Linked DNA regions of Homo sapiens: regions 1, 2, 3, 5 and 6 are each reported to be linked to region 4. The links are microRNA targets in miRTarBase. Many come from high-throughput screens and were not tested one by one. Region 4 holds a microRNA gene; each other region holds the end of a gene's coding sequence.

What was found. Region 4 holds the annotated microRNA hsa-miR-548ar-3p (UAAAACUGCAGUUAUUUUUGC, at 2,114-2,134, opposite strand). A microRNA usually pairs through its seed, bases 2 to 8, with sites in the 3' UTR of a target mRNA and lowers its output. Matches are read on the target gene's strand: a 7mer-m8 pairs with bases 2 to 8, a 7mer-A1 pairs with bases 2 to 7 and ends in A, and an 8mer does both.
Region 1: miRTarBase lists ERP44 as a target of hsa-miR-548ar-3p. Seed matches in the 3' UTR shown: 7mer-A1 at 3,319-3,325, 7mer-A1 at 2,205-2,211 and 7mer-m8 at 213-219.
Region 2: miRTarBase lists ZC3HAV1L as a target of hsa-miR-548ar-3p. Seed matches in the 3' UTR shown: 7mer-m8 at 634-640.
Region 3: the mRNA of RAB33B is a reported target of hsa-miR-548ar-3p. Seed matches in the 3' UTR shown: 7mer-A1 at 1,531-1,537.
Region 5: miRTarBase lists HMGA2 as a target of hsa-miR-548ar-3p. The part of its 3' UTR that is shown has no 7-base or 8-base seed match.
Region 6: the mRNA of ST6GAL2 is a reported target of hsa-miR-548ar-3p. Seed matches in the 3' UTR shown: 7mer-A1 at 2,316-2,322.

Annotation. Positions count from the first base shown.
Region 1 is chr9:99,979,031-99,983,030 of GRCh38, forward strand. ERP44 (endoplasmic reticulum protein 44) reads right to left here. Exons shown (of 12, transcript NM_015051.3): 12 at 155-3,683. The coding sequence ends at 3,582. Among named protein-coding and RNA genes, the nearest start is that of STX17, 74 kb to the left of the region's middle.
Region 2 is chr7:139,022,780-139,026,779 of GRCh38, reverse strand. ZC3HAV1L (ZC3HAV1 like) reads left to right here. Exons shown (of 5, transcript NM_080660.4): 4 at 1-72; 5 at 220-1,074. The coding sequence ends at 236. Among named protein-coding and RNA genes, the nearest start is that of ZC3HAV1L, 11 kb to the left of the region's middle.
Region 3 is chr4:139,472,770-139,476,974 of GRCh38, reverse strand. RAB33B (RAB33B, member RAS oncogene family) reads right to left here. Exons shown (of 2, transcript NM_031296.3): 2 at 366-4,205. The coding sequence ends at 3,849. Among named protein-coding and RNA genes, the nearest start is that of RAB33B, 21 kb to the right of the region's middle.
Region 4 is chr13:114,242,675-114,246,674 of GRCh38, reverse strand. It overlaps MIR548AR (microRNA 548ar), which reads right to left and starts at 2,170; the gene lies at 2,114-2,170. It overlaps CDC16 (cell division cycle 16), which reads right to left. Exons shown (of 18, transcript NM_001078645.3): 7 at 3,327-3,418; 8 at 2,686-2,819; 9 at 1,706-1,785; 10 at 626-675.
Region 5 is chr12:65,963,086-65,967,085 of GRCh38, forward strand. It overlaps HMGA2 (high mobility group AT-hook 2), which reads left to right. Exons shown (of 5, transcript NM_003483.6): 5 at 160-3,206. The coding sequence ends at 207. Among named protein-coding and RNA genes, the nearest start is that of HMGA2-AS2, 16 kb to the left of the region's middle.
Region 6 is chr2:106,803,121-106,807,325 of GRCh38, reverse strand. It overlaps ST6GAL2 (ST6 beta-galactoside alpha-2,6-sialyltransferase 2), which reads left to right. Exons shown (of 6, transcript NM_001142351.2): 6 at 377-4,205. The coding sequence ends at 648. Among named protein-coding and RNA genes, the nearest start is that of ST6GAL2, 81 kb to the left of the region's middle.

The DNA.
Region 1 (4,000 bases), not on the chromosome of region 4:
TCACCTTACATTCTCCATGGTTTCTCAAAAATTCCCAACAGTTGTTAATAGAAAGCATTTGCAACCTCCAGCAGCTCTCTAGGATACAGAAGTGTGGGTCTAACAACCTTGAAATCATTTAAGGTGACAACAATTTTTTTTTTTTTACTTTTCATTTTTGCAGTTTCATGTCATTTTATTTTGGTCCAGCCATATCTCCTTGTAGGAGAAAAAAAACTGAGTTATTCTGTTCTTCCTGATTGTCAATCCATTACACTACTTTATCCATTCCTTTTTGCCCTCAGGTTTAAAAAAGAAAAAAAAAAAAGCCTTCTTGACAACCTTAGCATTTTCTATAAATTTAAGCTTATTGTGAGCTTGAACATTTCAAACACTTCTATATTTCACTCTCCTCTCTGTAGCTTTTGTCATGCCAGTTTTCCCTTCTTTTGCAAATGATCTTTGACAACCTGGCTTCATCAGAGAGCTCTGAGATGCCTTAGATGCCCATTCTCTATCTTATTGGCTAGGTTCTTTTAATTTAAAGAAAAAAATAATTTGTAGAATGTCATCTAAAAGTTTCCATCCTTTTATGGTCCCCCTCACAATTTGAAAAACTCGAAGAGGTAGCTGGCTAAGAAGCAGAAAGGCCCCCTTTTGGTTCTGGGGACTCAACCGTGTTCTTCAGTCTGGTCTTGCATCCTCTCTTCCCAGCTGAGAAGCCTGAGGCCCCGAGTAGATCAGATAAACCGGGGAAGACTTCTACCTGAAATGGTCTGATTCACGGTTCAGAGGGGGAACAAGTCTAAATTTGAGACGTGCTTCCACACTATTCTTTCTCAAACTTTAAAGTGAACATACTTCCTTGCTTGCAATCTGTTGATGGATCTCTTCTGCCTACAATATATACTACAAACCCCTTAGTCTGGCACACAAGGCCCTGTGTGACCAGCTCCCATTTCTTTTTCTAGCTTCCCCAACCCCAAATGCCTTACTAAAAGAACTTTTTTCTCTAATGCATTAGGCTGTTTCATACCTTTGCTCAGATTATTCCCTCTCAGCCAGATCCCTACCTCCTGAGAACACCTATTCATCTTTTTAAAGCTCAAAATAAAAATAATGTCCTCAAATCTCTGCAATTGAGTGCTCCTTTATGCCCTCTTTAACCTTTATTTTGTCTTTACATCTATAACACGTTACAGTCATTGTTTACATATCCATATGCCTGACTAGGCTGTGAACAACTCTAGGGCAGAAATAATGCTTTATTCAGCTTTACATCTTTCATCATATACTACAGCACCAAAAAACTTGCACTGAATAAATGTCAGACTGAAATCTGCTTCCCTGTGACTTCCTCAAATCCTAGTTCAAGCCCTGGGATCCAGATAGACAGTGCCAGCATTTCAAATAATATCTAAAGACTGTCCCAGTCCCAAGTCTTCTCCAAGCAAAACAGCCTTAACATCCATGTTTTAAAAACCTTTTTATCCACGCTGTCCTTTCATCCAAGCACTTGAGCTTAGTGACTTTTTATAAAATTAGGCACCAAGTCCTAATGAGTGCTGAGCCCCTCAGGGTAAAAAAGTAACCAAGGTCACTTTGCTTCTCATTCATTAAATAAACGCCTGATGGTGACTACTAAGTGTCCAGAAATTCTAGGCACTAGTGATACAGACATTAAATTTAGTTTCCTTGTCCTCAGTGACTTCACAGTCCAGAGAAGACAATGATAGTGGCAGGGCTAGAGCCTAAGCCCAATATGCATGAATGCTAAGTAATACTTCCTCAAATCAACTCCCTTTTTAACAGCCACTTTATCATCTTAGAGCATACTGAACACGTACTCCTTGAGGCCTTTTTCATAATAACTACTCTCAAGCCAGCTCTCTGCAACCTAACCCTTGAATTGTATCTTTTGTTGATTATTTTTTCAAACCCAGTTACAGGATTACTATATTATTCCAGTTGATTGCATGTGCTGCTCTTGGTCCTGTGTGCTACCTTGTTGAATGTGAATTTCCATGCTGACCCTCACAGATCTGGTCCATAATCTAACCTGAAGACCATAACTCTAACTTCATTTAACTTATTGGTTAAAAGCAATGAGGATAACAGAACTAAGGCCCAACCTCTAGAAAGCTCCATCCTACTTTCTTATTCACAATTTGATACAATACATTAAATATACCCCTTATCACCTTATTAACATTTATTATTTTGAATAAAACTATGGAAACTTTGGATAAATCATGCATAACGAGGAATTATAAGCTGGTTTTTAAAAATAACAATCATTAAATATCCATTATAAATATTAATTTTATTTTAAAAGAATTGGAAGATGTTACATATATTACATACTACATATAATGGCACATGTCAGCCTTTTAAGCTTAAAAATAATCTTTTCCCAAACTGGGATTGATTTATACCCAAGTATAAAATGACCCTTGGCCTATAGCACCAACCCAGGCCCAGAGGAAAAGCCAGTTTTGAACCTGTCTGTCCTCTGGCACTGGGCTTCCTGATATGACACTGAGGGTCCTCTCCCTCTGGTTTTATTCCCTGGCAGTATTGAGGCCTGGCACAGGGACCCATCTTACTGTATGCTGCAGGCCTGGGGAAATCAGGGAATCTAGAGGGGGTAGGGTCCTCTAACCATTTTATAATGAAAAAAAGTTAAATATGTTCCTTATTCTGTGTTTTTGATTTATACAACTATAACAAGACTCTACAAGACAGAAGGAGCTTAAAATTACTGAAATACAATTTCTCTGCTAGTTCTTCTCTTTGGAAATTGAAGTCTCATAATAGGAGGAGCCTTAAAAGTCATCTAGTTCTGATTGGTAGCCTGTTCCACTGTCACCTCCCTGTCCCAGATTTAGGTATAATTCATTCAAAGTTTTAAATGCCATCCATATGCCACATTTTTAGACAAACACAGAAGCTTAATAATACTTTTCATTTTCTTTTTCTTGTTTCATAAGGACAATTCCTGCCAAATGTTCTGTCTTATGACTCTCCTCCACTTCAAAGTATGTTTAAGTTACACATTAAGAATCCAAAAAAATACCACTATGGAATTTTCATAAGCAATATCCAACCAATCAGTAAAACACAGTACACAGTGTGAAAACTTTAATTTATTCCCCTCCCAAGTATCCAGAATGTATATCTCTTTAGCTTTGAGAAATGAGATACTGAAAATACCAACAGAATTGATCATATGAAAGAAAGAAAAGCACATACGACACAGGAAACATCCCTAAGTCCTCCCTACCCTAGTAGTGCAAGTTAATGGTAAGTTTCTGGCAATGTCACCTTTCATTTGATTTATAAAACTTTTACAGGACAGATTTAAAGTGGAGATAGGCCTCTGATTTTTATTTTTAAATCCTAGCAGGTTTTTTTTTTTTAAGAGGCTACTATATTAAATGACAATGCATTTTGAGTCGGGGAGAAAAAAATTAAAAACCCAAAATTTCTTTCTGTTTATTCAAAATAAAAATACACATAGAATTATGAAAATATAGGTTTACTATTTCCACCACGTAGGTTGATGCTGCTGTTGAAAGGCTTACAAACTGTTTTTCAAGTTTTTAAAGCTCATCTCGATCCCTCAATAGAGTATACCTATATTCACTGGGTGCTAGTTTCTGGAAGGAGCTCTCAGGTGGACTGCTTGCTACATCTTGGGCTTGCTACAAAAGAAAGAATAAAACATTTTTATACCAATATAGTTTATGGTGCTATAATATTTTAATAAGTGTATTCGATGAATAGTAGTTCCCCTATAATTATTTGCTTATTAATCAATAAAAGCAACTGTGTGCCAAAGCAAGATATTTAAATGTGAAATCTTGCTTTCCTCATTTCAAATGCTCTTATTGAGATTCTCCAGGGCAGGGTTGCCACAGGGCCATTAACTGTGGGCTTGTTTTACATTTGCTGAGGTGTGGTGGAAGGGACCAAAATACCTGACACCTGGGTGCTTTCCTAGACTAGTCGACAGAGACAG
Region 2 (4,000 bases), not on the chromosome of region 4:
ACGCAGCTGGAGCTGCAGAAGCTGGTCCTCTGGCTTCTGTCCCTGCTCAGTCGGCCAAGAAGCCCTGCCCAGGTAAACCTTAAAGGGGGTCAGTGAACTAAGAAGAAGCTTGTCCAGCTTGGAAGATCTGAAAACAAGCCTTCTGTTTAGCTTTAATTTGTAACCATTCATTCATTTAATGATAGATTTGTAATGGTCATAATAATATCTACCTCACAGTGTCTTGCGAGAAGTAAAGAAGATGGAAAAGGAGAAAATGTCCTTTTGGAAGAATACATTTGGGCATGGGTGGTTGGGGATGGGGTGGGACATTGAACAGGCAAAGAGAGGCTAAAATTGAGTGCAGATGGGGCTAGTCCAGGGCAAGTGCTGAAGATGGCAGCTGCTATCTGCAGCTCCTAGGTGCTTTCCTCAGGCTGGGTAGATGGAGCTCTGCTGACTTCTGTGGTCCACCATTGTTTTTCTATCAATTTATATTGTGGCAATCCTAGAGTACTTTGCACTCATTTTTTTTTTTCACTTAATATTGTCTCATAAGCATCTTTCTATATTTGTTCACATCGTACATAATCATGTTTTTGCACAGATACATTAATATTATCATAGTTTGTTTAACTACTTGGCTTTTTCTAACAGTTTTTTTTTTTGAGATGGTCTTGCTCTGTTGCCCAGGCTGGAGTGCAGTGACGTGATCTCGGCTCACTGCAGCCTTGACTTCCTGGGCTCAAGTGATCATCCCACCTCAGCCTCCTGAGTAGCTGGGACTACAGGTATGCACCACGACCAGCTAATTTTTTGTATTTTTTTTTTGTAGAGAGGGTATTTTGCCATGTTGCCCAGGCTAGTCTTGAACTCCTGGGCTCAAGCGATCTGCCTGCTTCAGCCTCCCAGAGTGCTAGGATTACAGGCATGAGCCACTGCACCCAGCCTCTTAACAAATTTTGAATATAACTCCTGTCTTAAAATCTGCAGAATATTGAATTTTTCCAGCTATTTTTTACTTTTGCTTAGCTTATAGATGCTAAAGGATACTGTCATTTGCATTTTTAAAAATATATGTATGAGTGAATAGTTTTCTGGTGTCTGCTTTCTGATTGTTCTTATTTTTTCATTTTATATTTGGCCTTTTATTAATGGGGCCCTCATCTATGCTGATGTGGGACAGCCTTTAACGAGGCCTCAAATTTTCATGAAAGGACCTCAGCAATACTGTGCTTGGATGATATTCAATTTTTGTAGGTCCATCCTCAGCCAGTAGTACAGAGTATATAACCTTTGGGTTCTCTCCAGAGACTTCTACCTCACTCTGTCTACTCTTTTTTTTTTTTTTGGAGACAGAGTTTCACTCTTGTTGCCCAGGCCGGAGTGCAATGGCGCGATCTCATCTCACCATAACCTCCGCCTCCTGGGTTCAAGTGGTTCTCCTGCCTCAGCCTCCCAAGTAGCTGAGGTTACAGGCATGAGCCACCACGCCCAGTTAATTATGTATTTTTAGTAGAGACGGGGTTTCACCATGTTGGCCAGGCTGGTCTCAAACTCCTGACCTCAGGTGATCTGCCTGCCTCGGCCTCCCAAACTGCTGGGATTACAGGTGTGAGACTCTGTCTACTCTTCATTTCTTGCTGAGCTTTTACCAAAGCCCAGTCACAATAGTTTGAAGGATGAGCAGTATATCCACTCCTTTAAATTGTATCCATTCTTCCTGTGGCTCAGGATGGACCATCAGAAGTCTGTATACCTCACCCACTTCATGTTCCCTTTCCCCTTTCTCCCTTCTCCCTTCCTCCCTGCTCTCCACCTACCCAGCTGTGTTCATTGAGTTACATTTCAGTATTTTGTGGTTTATTTTCATCAAGGGGTACCACAAGAAGCAGCTTTATGCAATTAATTTTTTTGTTCTGTTTATTGTAGTCATCCTCAAATGTCACTGTGTAAAGTGTTGTTGTTGTTTTTAAATTCAACTGTCCTGCAGTAACATAACATTTGAGAAACAGAGACAATGTAATAAGTTTTCATAAAGCTAAATTAATGTAGAGAAATTTTTATCATGAAATGCTATCTTTTCAATTGAGGGAAAAAGCAAAAATGTCCTTTTTAAAGTGAGAAATGGCTGTGTTTTCTCCTAATGGATAATAAGAGTCATGCCACTTGTGTTGAGCTTTTTACTTTCATTGTCAACGATATTTCTGAAAGCCCTTATGCTCTGCATATTTTGTTTCTTTTTTTCTAGTCCAGATTTCTCCTGGTGATAATTAAAAAAATTTTTACATTTAATTATTACTATTATTTACACTTACCATTTTACTATGTATATTTTTGTAGTAAGCTATCTTAAATCTTTAATGGAAACAGTGTAGGGTATAAATGCATTTCCTTTACATTGAGAGACTTGCTGGACCTTTACTTGTTTATGTTCTGTTTTTATATCTTATCATTATGCTTTTATATGTGATGTTATTGGTCCTCTGTCATCTTTGTTGCAGTATTTTATTCAATTCTATAATAGTCTACTTTAATCTTAGTTTTGTTGGTATTCATTCTGTAAAATATTTTATATAACCATGCCTTTCTCTGATTTTCACTCATGATTAAGCTGTTAGAAAGTTATCGCATTATAGTTGGAAAAGAGTTTTCTTTGGTAATTTATCGGGGTTTTTGATGTCAAGTCGCATGTCTGTAGACTCTACAAATTCAATGTATTCTAAATTGAATTATGAATTTTCCTTTAGTCTTGTTCCTGCTTTTATTTCCTTATTTTTGAATGTCACCACTATCTACCTAATGACATAGACAAAAAGCTGTAAATTGTCCTATACTTTTTTTTCTCCTTGTTCCCTTTGTCAAATTGGTTACCCAGTGTTGGAGAGTTTCTTCCCCTCAAAAACCTTTCAAATATTTATCCTTCTCTGCCCCTTTCTTTCCACCCTGTACATACTGCCTTGTTTCAAACCCTCATCATCTTCCTGCATATATCCTACAGATGCATAAACTCAGTGGTTTTCAAGTCATCTGTTATGGGAGTTTTTGGTAAAAGGTGCCCTGTTCCCACTGCAGTGATGGTAGCCCTGTTTTAATCTTTAATAGAATAAGCGTTTGTGGATTTCACTGGTCTCCTTACCACTCTTCACTTCTCCTGCCTTCCATCTGGCTGCCTGACATTTTGAAAACAAAGCTAATCATATGGCTTTTTTCCTGCTGAAACCTTCCTTGGTCCTCATCATGTAGGGTGGTATTTGTAAACTCAAAACGCCTGCAGGGACTAGAAAGGTGAGTTAAATGGATGAAGTGAACTGGATGCAAGAGCAGTGGGAGAAGGGAGAAGTGCTGTGGCAAACTGTCCCATCTAAAAGGGACGCCTGCCTCTTGTATCCACGTGGGAATGTGGGCCCACTTTGTCATAGTGCCCAGTTTTTTAAAAAGAAGCCAGAAATTCAGATTGTTATGAGAAATGTTCTGATTGAATATTGACTTTAGTCGAGTTTTTAAAATGCAGACCAACATTGTATGTACTTGACCTACTTGGAATTTCTGGAATGTGCTATTTTGTCTTGTGATTCTCTGTAAATGATATTCCCTGTTTTTTTTTTTTTTTTTTTTCTTTTTTCCTTTGAGATGGAGTCTCTGTCGCCCAGGCTGGAGTACAGTGGCATGATCTCAGCTCACTGCAACCTCCGTCTCCCAGGTTCAAGTGATTCTCCTGCCTCAGCCTCCCGAGTAGCTGGGATTATAGGCATGTACCACCATGCCTGGCTAATTTTTGTATTTTTAGTAGAGATGGGGTTTCACCATGTTGGCCAGGCTGGTCTTGAACTCCTCACCTCAAGTGATCCACCCACCTCGCCCTCCCAAAGTGTTAGTATTATAGGCGTGAGCCACTGCACTCAGCCTGATGTTCCCTCTTTTATAAGTGCCATTCCTTCTTCCTACCTCACAACCTAGCAAAATTGGATTCTTCAAAACGCCAGGTTGGCCTTTCTTGACTCCAAAAGAGGTGACTCTT
Region 3 (4,205 bases), not on the chromosome of region 4:
TGCTAGCTTCATTTCCGTGTTCTGACCACATCTCCATTCTATCACATACTCACACTGACCTAGCAGTCATTCCCCCCAAATTCAACTCCACTCTTGAGCCCTGCAGTGCATTCACCTGGGATGACTTTCTTCCCTCTCCTTTACATGGAGAATGCCTCACATTTACCCTGAGATGCTGCATAAATGCTTCCACTCATTGTGAAGCTTTTTGATTATCTACTGCTCCCATATCCAAGTCAAAAGACCACTCCATATTCTGTGCTCATTGTCCTTTGTATATGCTTCTTTGATTACACTGATCACAGTATATTGTAGAATTCCTATTTGTTCATATACTATTTTGTAAGTTCTTCAAGGACAGTGTCTATGTAGCTCCACTAACACAAATAGAGAACACATGACCCATACTTGATAAATGTTTGATAAATCAGGTTATTCCAACAAACCAAGTGCATTCGCCCTTGCCACACAGGCTGTAGCAAACGTGCTCCCAAAATACATGACGAACTTCTTAATATCTGATTAAGAAAGCAGTCCTTCATGAATAATGTCAATTTTGTGTTTGAACACAAGGGTAACTTATACGTAAAATAAACTGACCAGGGGAAGCAGAATCAACATCAGAGGCCCCCACATCCCTAATCCTATGGTGTCTAAATCAGTAACTGCAATCTTATACCTGAGACGTAGTTCGTTCTCTTTTCTCATACTTTCTATAGTTATTCATTCTGTTAAATGCTTTTACGTCTAAATACACATCAACTCCTCTTGCACCATTTGCTTTTTGCACTGAACTATTCTAAAACAAGCTGGATTACTAAAACACACAAATACAAAAGCTGTGTTATCAGCTAATTTTAATACTTTGTTGAGTTTTTTTCCTGAAGTGTTCTTTGACCTCAAATGTATACAAGAAAATAATTGTCCAATGGGTTGGGGGCTTTTTGTTGTTTTCAAAAGTGTATCATATATATAATATTATCTGGAAACCAGGAGGAAAAAAAGATTGTTTTATTTTATACTCTACCCAGTAACCAAACAAAGAAAATAAAACACAATTTCTTTGTGGCTAAGCTGGTTTATTGAACTTCATGGGGGAAATGTAACAGTGACACTATTCCACAACAAAATTACTTAGATTTCATGAGGAAACATGTATTTGCAATATACTTTCAATAATGCATTGTTATTAATAGCGAACTACATTAGATTCTGGGGTAGTTTCCTTTGGTGTTCTCAAATTAAGACTTTTCCAAAACATGTCTGATATTTTAATTATTTATTTTCAATTAAAGGTCATAGTTAAAATAAATTCTACAGATTTTTTAAATGTGTGATTTGTTCTTTAAAAATTAGTAATTAGTTGTTAGATAGCTATCATTTTGGAAGTGATTTTGCAACAGTGAAATGTTTTATAAATATTTTAAGATATTGAAAGCTTTAACCCCATTCAACTGGTATGTTTTTTAAAAATAAAAACATATATATAAAAAATTAAAACAAATTGTTACAAATGAGATACAAATATTTTAAAACTAATAAATATTACAGTTAAAAAATAAGTCCTTTCACAGAACTGTAAAGGATATTACTTAATTCCTTACAAAAAGAAATAAAGTTACTCTTTTTAAAACCATAATAATAGTAATAAAAAACCATAAATGTGCTTGGAAAGTCTATAAACTTTCTTCCCCCACTTTAGAAAATATTTTGAAAAGCGATAAACAGATTCCCTTCTTTAAAAAAATGTTGTTACACCCATCATAGTTACTACAGCTGTCATTGTTTTATTACAAAAATAGTTATAAATCAAGGTTAATTTCGATACAAGTAAAACAATTTTTAAATTCCAGCATGATTAAGAAAACATGATCTCCCTAAATGCAAATAAAGCCAATTTGAGCTCTAATACTTAAAATGGAATAATCACTTCCTATAATTATTATTTTCAGTTAGTTCATTTAATAGAATTACTTTGTCTTTATAGTTAAATTATCCAGGTAGGACCACCATGATGATTAAACAAAAATCTTAAACTAGATTAGATTACATTTTTAATTGATTTCCCATATTCTGAAAATACTGTAGTACAATAATCATTTGGCTTAATTTCCTCCAAAATTATTAAGGACAGCAATCTATCAAAATTAGTGAATGTGAACACTTCAGTTAAAGTCATGGCTTACATTCCATTTACGTAAATAGTTTAATATGTAAGCTTGCTATATTTTATGTGCAAAGACTTAAATTCAAAATAAAAGTATTTAGGTTAAAAAACTTCTTGAAATATTCTTTCCATCACTGAAGTTTAGACATTTTTCAATATCTAATTTATTTTTCATACTGAGGAGGGATAACTTGTGACCATAAAATTTAGACATCTTAAAAATTGATATGACACAATACTATTACAGAAATACATGTAGACTAATAGCAATTAGAGTTGTGCCTTCACACCTACAATCCAAATGGAAGTTGATTTGTTAACTTGGCATTTAGTCATTAAATTTATTGGAGTTGAAGGAAGAGCAAGAGATACCATATGGGATACACTGCTTGAAATTAGTAAAGGCTAAGAATAGGTCTCCTGTGTTAGCTAGAAGCTATGTTTACCTATTTTCCCCCAAGTTACAACTCTTCATGTGCTTTCAGTTAGTTTTTCACTGTTTAAATATACCAAAATAAAATATAAAGCACCTTATGTCACTTTATTTGCCTTAAAATCTGACTTATTTTTGCATATTTTAATAGGATTTAGTAAGAAAGCAACTCGGCTGGGTGCAGTGACTCACACCTGTAATCCCAGCACTTTGGGAAGCTGAGGCGGGTGGATCATGAGGTCAAGAGATCGAGACCATCCTGGCCAACATGGTGAAACCCCATCTATACTAAAAATACAAAAATCAGCTGGGTGTGGTAGTGCACGCCTGTAATCCCAGCTACTCGGGAGGCTGAGGCAGGAGAATCACTTGAACCTGGGAGGCGGAGGTTGCAGTGAGCCGAGATGACGCCACTGCACTCCAGCCTGGAGACAGAGCGAGACTCCATCTCAAAAAAAAAAAAAAAAAAAAAGAAAGAAAGAAACTCAAATAACTCTTTTAAAATAATAATGATTTTTGTAGATCTGATAAGTATTAATTAGAAAATCAAACATCTAGAACTCTTGGAAAAGTCATTCTTTATGGACTGGGAACCAGAAAACATTCTATGCCTTCTTATCCCACTGGAACTAAAGTCTTGGCTCTAAAACATACCAATAATAACAAAACTAAATATGTTAATAAAACAAAGAAAGGCCAGATGCAGTGGTGAGTACCTACAGTCCCAGTACTGGGGAGGCTGAGGTGGGAGGATTGCTTGAGCCCAGGAGCTCAAGGCCAGCCTGGACAACATAGCAAGACCCCGTCTCTATGAAAAAACAAAAAAAGTACTCTGGGGAGAGGCAAATACCAGTTTTTATCCTATTAAGAACACTTCCCATTCAAAGGACATACTATTAGGTGTGTCCTAAACCTTTAACATTTTTTTCCAATCCTAGGACAAAAGATTGAATGGTTACTGATTCCATCATGTTCTCATTTGAAGCTTCCTTCATTGGGCTCTAGATGGAGAGATGTTCAGATTCATCCTATCTTTGCTTCATTTTCAATCTCACCTGAAAACCAACTTTTCCTGTGTTGTCACAGTGACAAACTTAAGTAGATACAAAATACAAAAGCGTGACAATGACAAACAGCAAAGTGTCAAGATGACCCATTATAGTTGAGATTAAATCTTATGACTTAATACTGTCATACTTCAAAAGTATTTCTTTAGTCAAAATTAGATAATATAATAAAGACTGTTATTTAGCACCAGCACGTCATTGCAGGCTTTGGTTCAGGCTTCAGGATAATTCCATTATCAGGGGGCTGACTAAGCATTAATGGTTTGTGGCTCTTAAGCTTATGAGCCAAGGTCATAAATATAGCTTCCACATGGTCATTATCATTGGGGTTTTTAGCAGACGTTTCAAACAAAGGCATACTGTGTGTGTCAGCAAATTTTTGTGCCAAGTCTGTGGGTACCTGTATGGCACTTCTCAAGTCACATTTATTTCCAACAAGAATCCGTGGTATATCATTGGCTAGCAAATGTTGTTTGCATTCTTCTATCCAAGATGGTAGGCTATGAAAACTAGCCATGTTGGTCATATCATACACGAA
Region 4 (4,000 bases):
TGACTCCCCTGCACTGCTCATCTCCCCCAGCCTGACCCTGGCTCTTCCTTGCTCTCTGTCCGAGTTCTGACTATTTAGCTGGTTTTCTCTTGCTCTGGTTTCACACTGGGATAGGGTGCAAATTCTTGTCGTCTGAGTCTTACACCCTGATTCCTGATTTTGTCCTTAAAGACGCAGTCCCTGATTCCATTTTCCATTCCTAGTTCTCCATTCCGATCCATGACAGTTTGGAATCAGTACACAATTCAACAGGTTGTCTTACATGTGCAATGTGAGAAAGCTGCCAAACAATTATCCACATTTCTTAGGAAAGGGAGGCGTGACTGTCATGGTCAGTATTTTATATTGCTATACGCTAAGTATTTTAAAATAAGCATGTATAACTTCTATAATCAGAAAAAAGGGTTTAAAAACCTTTTTGCTTTGGTATAATTAAAAAATACCTTCATGGGTTGAAAAGTTAATGCTGCTTTTGTAAGTACAATAAACACTAGGAGATTCTGTTGCAACACTTTAATAAAACATCATTTGCTTGAACTTAAGCTATTGTCTAAATACGAGTTAAGCATTTTCTTAAAGTACAGGTAAAAAAAAAAAAACTAAGACTAAAAGTTATATTACTTACAGGATTACTAGGATATAAATCCACCAGTTTATGAGAAAGATAGAAAAGTTCTGTTCAGGAAAAAGCAGAAAAAGAACAATTGTTCGTATCACATGTAATTTAAGACATGATTTCATTACAACTCTTCACAATCATATAATTCTGCTCTTACAGCAATGATTTCATACTTGTCTTTCCTTCTAGATAAAAAATTAACTCTCTAACTGGAGAGTTAGATGAAGGACACACTGTGGGCAAGGTGGGAACAGACACCCCCTAAGACAGCACTTCCCGAATACTGCAGAGGATACAGCAAAGCACCTCACCTCTCTTAGAAGCTCATGCCTGTCACACCAAGGGCCCATTATGGACCATCATAATCACCCACAACCAATTTGGCTGAACAAACTTTCAAGTTTATCAGATCAATGATACTATTTAATCTTGAGAAATGTGTAAATCCTGGCATTTCAAGATGATGTTTCCTGCATGCAGACTTGGATTCAGTAGACCAGAGCAGCTGGAGATGCTGCATTTCCAACCAGCTTCCACAAATGCGATGTTGCTGGTCCACGAACCACACTCTGAGCAGCAGGGATTCGGTGAGGGTTTTCCTTCCTGACAGAGCTCACCATTCAGTTTAGAAAAATTTAAGGACAAATGCATCCCCAAACACAACTAAATGTCAAATGTTAAAAATACGGAAAACATGAGCAAACAATCTGCTCCTTTCCAATTTCTAAGTAGTTATCAACTCTTACCATATCAGATTTCCAGTGGAATTTACAAAAAAAAAAAAGGGGGGGGGAGGCAGAACTGACACCCAACAATTTAAAGCTAACAAACCTTGAAACATAAATGATATTTGAGAAAAGGTAGTAGGAAGCAGTGATAAAGAACTAATTGTTCTGATGGGAAAACAAAATTGGCCATTTGCTACTTTCCTAAACATTTCCTCCCCAGTTGTTACTTTTATAGTAGGGTTCCATTATGTTGTTACCTGCAATCTCAACTATCCAGAATTTCAGAGACAAAATTTCAAGTTACAGAAAAGATTTGTTTTATGTCTAAGAATTACTTTAATTTAAAAAAAAGTCTTACCATTGGCTTTATTCAGCTCTACAAGCGTCCCTATATGTACAGGTAAACAACTTGCATGGAAAGGATCTTTCTCCATTACTCTGAAAGTTAAAGCGACACATTACTACCCCCAAACCAGCAGGTGACAGCACTCACGACGATCGGCTATGTGTAGACAGTCATTATGGTATCACATATGATGCTGTGGGTTGTAACACTTCACTTTCTTCACTCCATTATCTTCAGGTTGATTCAGTTAAGGCCATAATTAAGTTACAAATGAAAGAAAAAATTCTGGTTTATTTGAAAGGAATAAAAATAAACATTATCACATACATTTACTTTAAGTCAACAGAATTGTAATACATAAAATAAGTAGGCCGCTTATTTAAAAGAATCAAAACCAACAGGAAATCCTATTAGGTTGGTGCAAAAATAACTGCAGTTTTACCACTACGTTCAACAGCAAAAACTGCAATTACTTTTGCACCAAACTAATAAATAGGTTATGTGTATTTGCCAATTAAAATTTTTGTAATTTCAAGGATTTTAAACCGAACCAAGATCTACAAAAAATAGCATATGTCATTTAGCTAAAGTTTAAATTAGGTACACTGGAAAACTGATACATGTGGGAGATGGCTTAGCTACTGCGTGCAGCATATTAAACACCTAGTATCTACAGTGTGAGTCTCATAATTGAGAATAAATTTTACAAAACAATGTGCCAAAATGGAATTTTCAAACTTGCAAATTATCAAGATCAGTAAGAGCAACATGTATATCCCTCCCAAGTTAATGTAATAAATCTACAAATATGCACAAATTCATGTCTGTAAATTGCTCTTTTAAGACAGCACCCTGTTCAGTGCTCTACAATTGGTAAAGATAACTTAAATTATCATCTAGTTCAAGATTATTCAGAGAGCACGTCCGTGAATCACCTAGGTAAGATGGAGTGAACTCCATGTTCCTACAGAAAAATGGATGGATATACTTACACAGAAGTAAGCTTGTAGCACATTTTAAAATCACAGTTATAATAATGTCTCTCAGCTAAAGACACTACCACATCCAGATTCTCTTGCAAGCCATCTACAGATTCAGGGATGACCGTTTCACTAGGCTTATTATACTGAAACACATAGAAATGTAAACATAAACTCAATGAGCAAAAACAAAATAAAATGTGGATTCAATTTGTGTTTGGCCCAAGTGGTTAAAACATTTACAAGAACAAATGTGAGAGCCTCTGAAAACTTATAACTTTAGGTTTTATAAGTACTCCTCTCAGTAAGTTTAATTCCCTTCTCAATTTTAGAACAGAATTCCACAGCGGGACGTATTTCTCAAAGTAAACATTCAGGAAGCATAACAAAAAAATCTTCATTTCCATGCAACACCATTCCATTTACATTTACTTGGTAATTCAATCTTTTAGTATAAGGAGTCTTTCAGAGGAAAAAGGTATTTTTGAAAGCTTTTTTTTTTTGGAATCTTATGTATCTTAAACGCTCTATTCTTAAAAATGTGCTAAATTTAAAAAGTTTTAATTTTGAAAACTTAATATAAGACTAGATGCCAAATTTTATGGAATAAGATATTTACATAAAGCAAGTGCTAACTCTTTGGTTTTACTTACTTTTTTCAATTTGTTCTCAAATAGAAAACGCAGCAATTCCTGTTCTTCATTACACAGCTTGCTAAGGGGTAGTGATTCAAGAAGTTCTTTTTCTTAAAAATGGTGAGAAAAAAAAGAATATCCTCATAATATTTATAGAGGGGAAAAAGCCAACAACTAAAAATATGATTCTACAGTTCTTGGTCTAAGTAAATCAAACTCAAAAGAGAACATAAGATCAAAATGTGCAACAGAAGCTGACACAGTGGCTCCAGGCCTGAAGACGGGAATCATCTGGTGGGTGGAGGCTACTCTTTCAGGGCTGAGGCAGGTCCCCAGGTGGCTCTTGTCACCTAAGAACCACCAGCCTCCGCACTCCTGACTGCGTGGATCTTGCTCTGCTGGGAACAGGGGAGCCTGTGTACTGCAGGTGCTAAGCAGGACCTCTGGCCACTAACCACTAGATACCAGCAGCAACCTCTCAACCTCCCTCCCTGCCCCTAAGCTGTGACAAACAACATCTCCAGACATTGCCAACTGTTCCCGGGGCAGGGGGCGGCAAAATCACTCTGGTTGGTTGAGAACCACTGCACTAGGCTAAAATATGTTAGAATCCCATTAATCCAACCACTCTATTTTCTGTTTCCCTTGTTGACGCACCTCACACCACTGCCAACATACTTGGACTGATTCTC
Region 5 (4,000 bases), not on the chromosome of region 4:
TTTAAGAAGCCCTGGGAATGAGGGCTCGCCAGTCATCGTCATCCTCTTTTGAGGCAAGCATAATGTGCTGTGGAAACAGGTTACCTCTGCACTGTTGGCAAGAGCAGCCCACACAGTATAACGATTGAGCGTCATGGCTGTGCCCTTTGTGTGTTCCAGGAGGAAACTGAAGAGACATCCTCACAAGAGTCTGCCGAAGAGGACTAGGGGGCGCCAACGTTCGATTTCTACCTCAGCAGCAGTTGGATCTTTTGAAGGGAGAAGACACTGCAGTGACCACTTATTCTGTATTGCCATGGTCTTTCCACTTTCATCTGGGGTGGGGTGGGGTGGGGTGGGGGAGGGGGGGGTGGGGTGGGGAGAAATCACATAACCTTAAAAAGGACTATATTAATCACCTTCTTTGTAATCCCTTCACAGTCCCAGGTTTAGTGAAAAACTGCTGTAAACACAGGGGACACAGCTTAACAATGCAACTTTTAATTACTGTTTTCTTTTTTCTTAACCTACTAATAGTTTGTTGATCTGATAAGCAAGAGTGGGCGGGTGAGAAAAACCGAATTGGGTTTAGTCAATCACTGCACTGCATGCAAACAAGAAACGTGTCACACTTGTGACGTCGGGCATTCATATAGGAAGAACGCGGTGTGTAACACTGTGTACACCTCAAATACCACCCCAACCCACTCCCTGTAGTGAATCCTCTGTTTAGAACACCAAAGATAAGGACTAGATACTACTTTCTCTTTTTCGTATAATCTTGTAGACACTTACTTGATGATTTTTAACTTTTTATTTCTAAATGAGACGAAATGCTGATGTATCCTTTCATTCAGCTAACAAACTAGAAAAGGTTATGTTCATTTTTCAAAAAGGGAAGTAAGCAAACAAATATTGCCAACTCTTCTATTTATGGATATCACACATATCAGCAGGAGTAATAAATTTACTCACAGCACTTGTTTTCAGGACAACACTTCATTTTCAGGAAATCTACTTCCTACAGAGCCAAAATGCCATTTAGCAATAAATAACACTTGTCAGCCTCAGAGCATTTAAGGAAACTAGACAAGTAAAATTATCCTCTTTGTAATTTAATGAAAAGGTACAACAGAATAATGCATGATGAACTCACCTAATTATGAGGTGGGAGGAGCGAAATCTAAATTTCTTTTGCTATAGTTATACATCAATTTAAAAAGCAAAAAAAAAAAAGGGGGGGGCAATCTCTCTCTGTGTCTTTCTCTCTCTCTCTTCCTCTCCCTCTCTCTTTTCATTGTGTATCAGTTTCCATGAAAGACCTGAATACCACTTACCTCAAATTAAGCATATGTGTTACTTCAAGTAATACGTTTTGACATAAGATGGTTGACCAAGGTGCTTTTCTTCGGCTTGAGTTCACCATCTCTTCATTCAAACTGCACTTTTAGCCAGAGATGCAATATATCCCCACTACTCAATACTACCTCTGAATGTTACAACGAATTTACAGTCTAGTACTTATTACATGCTGCTATACACAAGCAATGCAAGAAAAAAACTTACTGGGTAGGTGATTCTAATCATCTGCAGTTCTTTTTGTACACTTAATTACAGTTAAAGAAGCAATCTCCTTACTGTGTTTCAGCATGACTATGTATTTTTCTATGTTTTTTTAATTAAAAATTTTTAAAATACTTGTTTCAGCTTCTCTGCTAGATTTCTACATTAACTTGAAAATTTTTTAACCAAGTCGCTCCTAGGTTCTTAAGGATAATTTTCCTCAATCACACTACACATCACACAAGATTTGACTGTAATATTTAAATATTACCCTCCAAGTCTGTACCTCAAATGAATTCTTTAAGGAGATGGACTAATTGACTTGCAAAGACCTACCTCCAGACTTCAAAAGGAATGAACTTGTTACTTGCAGCATTCATTTGTTTTTTCAATGTTTGAAATAGTTCAAACTGCAGCTAACCCTAGTCAAAACTATTTTTGTAAAAGACATTTGATAGAAAGGAACACGTTTTTACATACTTTTGCAAAATAAGTAAATAATAAATAAAATAAAAGCCAACCTTCAAAGAAACTTGAAGCTTTGTAGGTGAGATGCAACAAGCCCTGCTTTTGCATAATGCAATCAAAAATATGTGTTTTTAAGATTAGTTGAATATAAGAAAATGCTTGACAAATATTTTCATGTATTTTACACAAATGTGATTTTTGTAATATGTCTCAACCAGATTTATTTTAAACGCTTCTTATGTAGAGTTTTTATGCCTTTCTCTCCTAGTGAGTGTGCTGACTTTTTAACATGGTATTATCAACTGGGCCAGGAGGTAGTTTCTCATGACGGCTTTTGTCAGTATGGCTTTTAGTACTGAAGCCAAATGAAACTCAAAACCATCTCTCTTCCAGCTGCTTCAGGGAGGTAGTTTCAAAGGCCACATACCTCTCTGAGACTGGCAGATCGCTCACTGTTGTGAATCACCAAAGGAGCTATGGAGAGAATTAAAACTCAACATTACTGTTAACTGTGCGTTAAATAAGCAAATAAACAGTGGCTCATAAAAATAAAAGTCGCATTCCATATCTTTGGATGGGCCTTTTAGAAACCTCATTGGCCAGCTCATAAAATGGAAGCAATTGCTCATGTTGGCCAAACATGGTGCACCGAGTGATTTCCATCTCTGGTAAAGTTACACTTTTATTTCCTGTATGTTGTACAATCAAAACACACTACTACCTCTTAAGTCCCAGTATACCTCATTTTTCATACTGAAAAAAAAAGCTTGTGGCCAATGGAACAGTAAGAACATCATAAAATTTTTATATATATAGTTTATTTTTGTGGGAGATAAATTTTATAGGACTGTTCTTTGCTGTTGTTGGTCGCAGCTACATAAGACTGGACATTTAACTTTTCTACCATTTCTGCAAGTTAGGTATGTTTGCAGGAGAAAAGTATCAAGACGTTTAACTGCAGTTGACTTTCTCCCTGTTCCTTTGAGTGTCTTCTAACTTTATTCTTTGTTCTTTATGTAGAATTGCTGTCTATGATTGTACTTTGAATCGCTTGCTTGTTGAAAATATTTCTCTAGTGTATTATCACTGTCTGTTCTGCACAATAAACATAACAGCCTCTGTGATCCCCATGTGTTTTGATTCCTGCTCTTTGTTACAGTTCCATTAAATGAGTAATAAAGTTTGGTCAAAACAGATCAAGGAGGGAGACACTCACAAGTCATTTTGTTGCACCCCTTGCACACATCTTGGCACACATGTACATAAAGTGTGTTTTACATATCATACTCCTTCAATCAACTGCCCTGAGCTCGCCTTTCAGATTTTGACATTTAATTCTACAGAGACAATCTTAGAAGAAACATGAAGAACAAGCTGTAGCTCCAAACTACAGAATTTTTACTTCAGGCTAGCACCTACAAAGTTTGTAAGGGAAGTAACTAATGCACTAGTCGTCTTTGAAGTAACATTGGAAAGAGATCCGGAAGATTGATGAATAAGAAATGAAAGCCACGAAGAGTCTCCTAGATAGGAGCCTTTTAACTCTAAAAACTACTAGCAGAGTCAGAATGATTCTACCAAGTTCAAGGTCAACTTGACACTTAAGTTGCTAATTATGAATAAATCTAGGATTTTTAAAAAGCTAAAACTTTCGGTTTTTACTATCACCGTTGTTACTCAAATTTTCTTCATTTAGCTTCTTAGAAGGAGAAATTTGTTTCTAGGAAAAGCTTGCCAATTTTAAGACATCTACTGTCAGGAAATTTGTTAAACGTATTATTTCATTCCTAAATTCATTCACTTATTCTCACAGCCAATATTCTGTGAGTACCTTACTGAGTTGTCCTGAAAAGTGGTTGCATCCTGAAGCCCCTGCCAATACCAAGGACAAATCACAGGCCCTCTCACAAAAAGCCTTTATGGTCACCATCAGAGAGGGAGAATGAGTTTCAACCAATGTAGCATTTCACATGGGAGCGTGGGGAGGGTA
Region 6 (4,205 bases), not on the chromosome of region 4:
AACCAGATGGGACATGTGTATAGAATGTGATACAGGAAACTCTGATTTGGGGGGTTGCAAATCTGTCCTTCACTAGCGTGTGGTTCCCTCAAGTTCACTGACTTCTTTTCATCTCTCCTTACCAGGCCCACAGTGATAAATTAAATGAGCGAATAGATATATATATATATAGTGTTACATTTTAATATGCCCCCATACTCCATGAACTGCATACACACCACTTAATGGAAGTTATAACATTGCAAATGCAACAACAACAAAAAAGTAAGTGTCTCTTGCCACAGTCATATCCCATCACCACCACCCCTCCCCCAAAAAACTCATCCCTCTCACATGGAGTTGTTCATTAGGTTCTAATTTTTGGTTTTCATGTCAGGAATCCTCATAATGATGTCCATGTGCAGAGAGGTGCACGTGTATGAATATATCCCATCCGTGCGGCAGACGGAGCTGTGCCACTACCACGAGCTGTACTACGACGCAGCCTGCACCCTCGGGGCGTACCACCCACTACTCTATGAGAAGCTCCTGGTGCAGCGCCTGAACATGGGCACGCAGGGGGATTTGCATCGCAAGGGCAAGGTGGTTCTTCCCGGCTTCCAGGCGGTGCACTGCCCTGCACCAAGTCCAGTCATTCCACACTCTTAAAAAGGGTTTCTTGGGAATCAATGTGCAATAAGGTACTACTGTTGTACTCAAAGTCACAAAAGAATACTTGAAGATAGATTTTAGACAGTGTAGTTTTGAGTCTTTAAACAGTAATTTAGTGGTGGTCATGATAATCCTTCTCTTTCTAAGCCATTGAGTATGTATTACTGCTTTGAACATAGAAATGGTTTTTTTAAAAAAATAAGGCTCAAGAAAGATGCAAAACCAAGGATAGCTAGAAAGAAAACACATGTATGACCATGGGTATGATACCTCCAGAAATGTTAACAACTTATTCTTCTGCCATGAGTACCCCTCATCAGGGTTGGTTTCAATGACAGGTTTTGGTGATGTTCCTGACCATATGAAGTGGTTTATGTTTAGAAACATTCAAATTGAGGGACATCATTTACAGCATCGAGTGTGTCAGTTATACATGCATTCATCATTAAATATCCTAGGTTTTATGACAGACATTGAAATTATCACTCAGATGTGTTTAACAGCAAAAAATTCCCAGCACATCCTGGCAAAGGCTTTTATTTCCAACCGTTGCATTCTTCATCTCTGCCTCCCATTGCCCACTGAATGCTTTGCTTTCTGTGCATCAAGACAGAGTTCTAAAACCAGAAAACATCCATCTTGAAAGGTCCAAGAAAAAGCCAAATTCCATATAGCACCACAGAGGAGGCCCTTTGTTTCCCTGCAGTATTTCAACCAGGAACATTAGTATCACATCCACCAGGAGGCACATCACTGGCAAGTAACATAGAATCACAGGGCTGCAGGTGCCCCTGGACACTCCCCGGTTCTGGCTTTTCTGCCTTGTACCTCCTCACCTGCAGATCTACCCTGCAGCTTTTGCATAGTCAGTGACACACTTGACAATTGGCACAGCTGTGCTGGGGAAGACGGGAGACACCTTGCTCCTTCCAAACTAGAAGGAAAGATTTTGGAGCCATCACCCTGTGCTTCTAGGGATGCACGCCTGTCTTTATTATACAGGTTTCTTGCAGGTTTTTATCAGCCAGTGGGAACTCCACAGTGATGAGCACTGAATCTTCACTAAATCTTCCTACAGACATTTAGGAATCCAGTCCTTGCTTTTGCAGATATGTTTTATGTCAGCAGCATGACAAAGCCATATAATTAAATAATTTATGTGAAAGCATTGCTTATTAACAAGGAAAATATGTAGATGCTTCAGAGGGAAAGGCAGCTAGAGGGAAATTTTCATCCCAATATGTTAGCTATATTCAGGGTTGATTTTTTCTTTAATCTCAACTGTCACTGATACATTGAAAAATTTTTGCTATGAATATAGTGAAACAGAAACATTCTGTAATACCTTAATTAAACATGCTATTATTTCAATGTATAACCAAAACATATCTCCATGGTACAGTTAAGACTTGTTGCAATGACAATAGCAGCTTAATTAAATGCGTTCTCCCTTGCAAAATGTATGAATGTCAGGAGAGTTTAGTGGAAAAGTTTTCTTTGTTTCAGGATTGGTTTCTTCTAGACTGTTCTCAGGACTACTTTCTTGAGCAAGAATGGCTTACAGAGACTGAAGGCTTCTGTTTGGTTAGTCTATTCAGCAGATATGGAGCTGGAAAACAAGACATCTCCTATAGCTTGCTATAATAGTGAAGGAGAAATTGGAAAGTTTTAATCACAATAATATCCAATAAAAGCCCATTTTGAGAGTTTTGTTATTAAGTCAATGAGAAGGGATAGGTAACTTTGTCCTATATATTAACTTATGTCTAAATAGACATGGTTAAGCCATGTTCCTTTCTAATTTCTTTTCTTTTCTTTTTTTTTTTTTTTTTTGAGACAGTCTCTCGCTCTGTCGCCCAGGCTAGAGTGCAGTGGTGCGATCTTGGTTCACTGCCAGCTCTGCCTCCCACGTTCACACCATTCTCCTGCCTCAGCCTCCTGAGTAGCTGGGGACTACAGGCACCCGCCACCACGCCCAGCTAATTTTTTGTATTTTTAGTAGAGACAGGGTTTCACCGTGTTAGCCAGGGTGGTCTCGATCTCCTGACCTTGTGATCTGCCTGCCTCGGCCTCCCAAAGTGATGGGATTATAGGCGTGAGCCACCACCGCGCCCGGTCATTCCTTTCTAATTTCTTGAAAAAACTTTGTCTTGTCCTTATGTTTACATGTGTGTAATAATTTCAGCAACTCTGGAATGTGGGTGAGGTGGCTGTGGTGGATGAATATTACTCCCTACCCTCCTTGGATCTTTCTAGATCTTCCAGACCATTAAATGCCCCTGAAGCTCCTTTTATAGTTTTGCAAGTGGATTTACTTGTAGACATCCTTACTATCCAGCATAATCCCCCTTGGCTGACATGAGAACTTGGTTAGAGGAGAATTTATTGGGGTCAGTGTAAATATTCAAGTTCAAAAGCCTCAGAACCCAACACTTTAAAGATTTTTAAATGGAATTTTGTCGTAGTCATTGTACTTTTAAAATAGTACTTTCAGTTTCATTGAGGTTACAAGAAAGACTGAAGAGTACAAAGGAAATTTAGTTACAATTTTTGCATTTATTATGGCCTTAAAGACTCTTGGGAATCAGGCTCTGTTCAACAGTCAATAAATGTAATACACACATTAATATAGTACTGACTGGGCGTTCTTCTATAAAAGTTTAAGTTCTTTGGCTTCTAAGAAAATGTTGGGCAGTTACAGTTAACTTGATGACTACTTCTAGTATTAGCCAAATGGGTCCTAAGTGGCAGCATTTTGCCAGACATTGACTAAATCCTTACATGCCACATTTACTGAATTCCAATAAACATATAGTTCTTCTGTGGAGTAGTTAACAGTAAGTGGCAGCTCACTGAATTTCTCCCAGGTTCTGTCTCTTCCAAAATCCTCCATCCTCTCTTATGAAGGGAAGCTGATAAAAAAAAATCCTCTTGGTGCAAGCTGAAGCTGTTAAGGATTCCTTTTTTCACTCTCAGGACCAACAGACGTTCTTTTGTATTTCAAGATAATTTCACCTGTTGTTGTTGTTGTTGTTGTTGTTGTTGTTGTTGTTGTTGTTGTTACAAAGAAACAAATTTTGAGCAGCAATGACAATTCAACCATATCTAGATTCTCCCTACCTTATTTCTCCAGCCAGTCACACCAGGCAGACGGGTAACCTTTAACAGACCTGGTGTTCTCATGGAATACCGATGCTCGTCCCAGGGAGCTGACCTTTCTCACTATGTCCTTATAGAGCTGCTCTTACAGAGAACTTTGTGCTCAGGACCAAGGGATGGTCAATTAAAAGTTGCATGTAAGCATCAGGCTTGGATGGGCAAGGGAGGGCTTTTATACATCTTTGAACGACCAGGTCTTTCCTTGTCTGCCTGAAGGCAGAGCTTCGAGAAACAGCACTTCCCATGTGTCTGGTCCTCTTGGTCTCTCAGCCAGACACTTAATCAATCCTGGACTCTCCAGTAGTCCTCAGTCATTGTAGCCATAGCATCTGCAAAAAAAGAAATGCTAAAATAATCATTAGCGTTTTCAAAATTAGGAAATCAAAGTAGCTGGG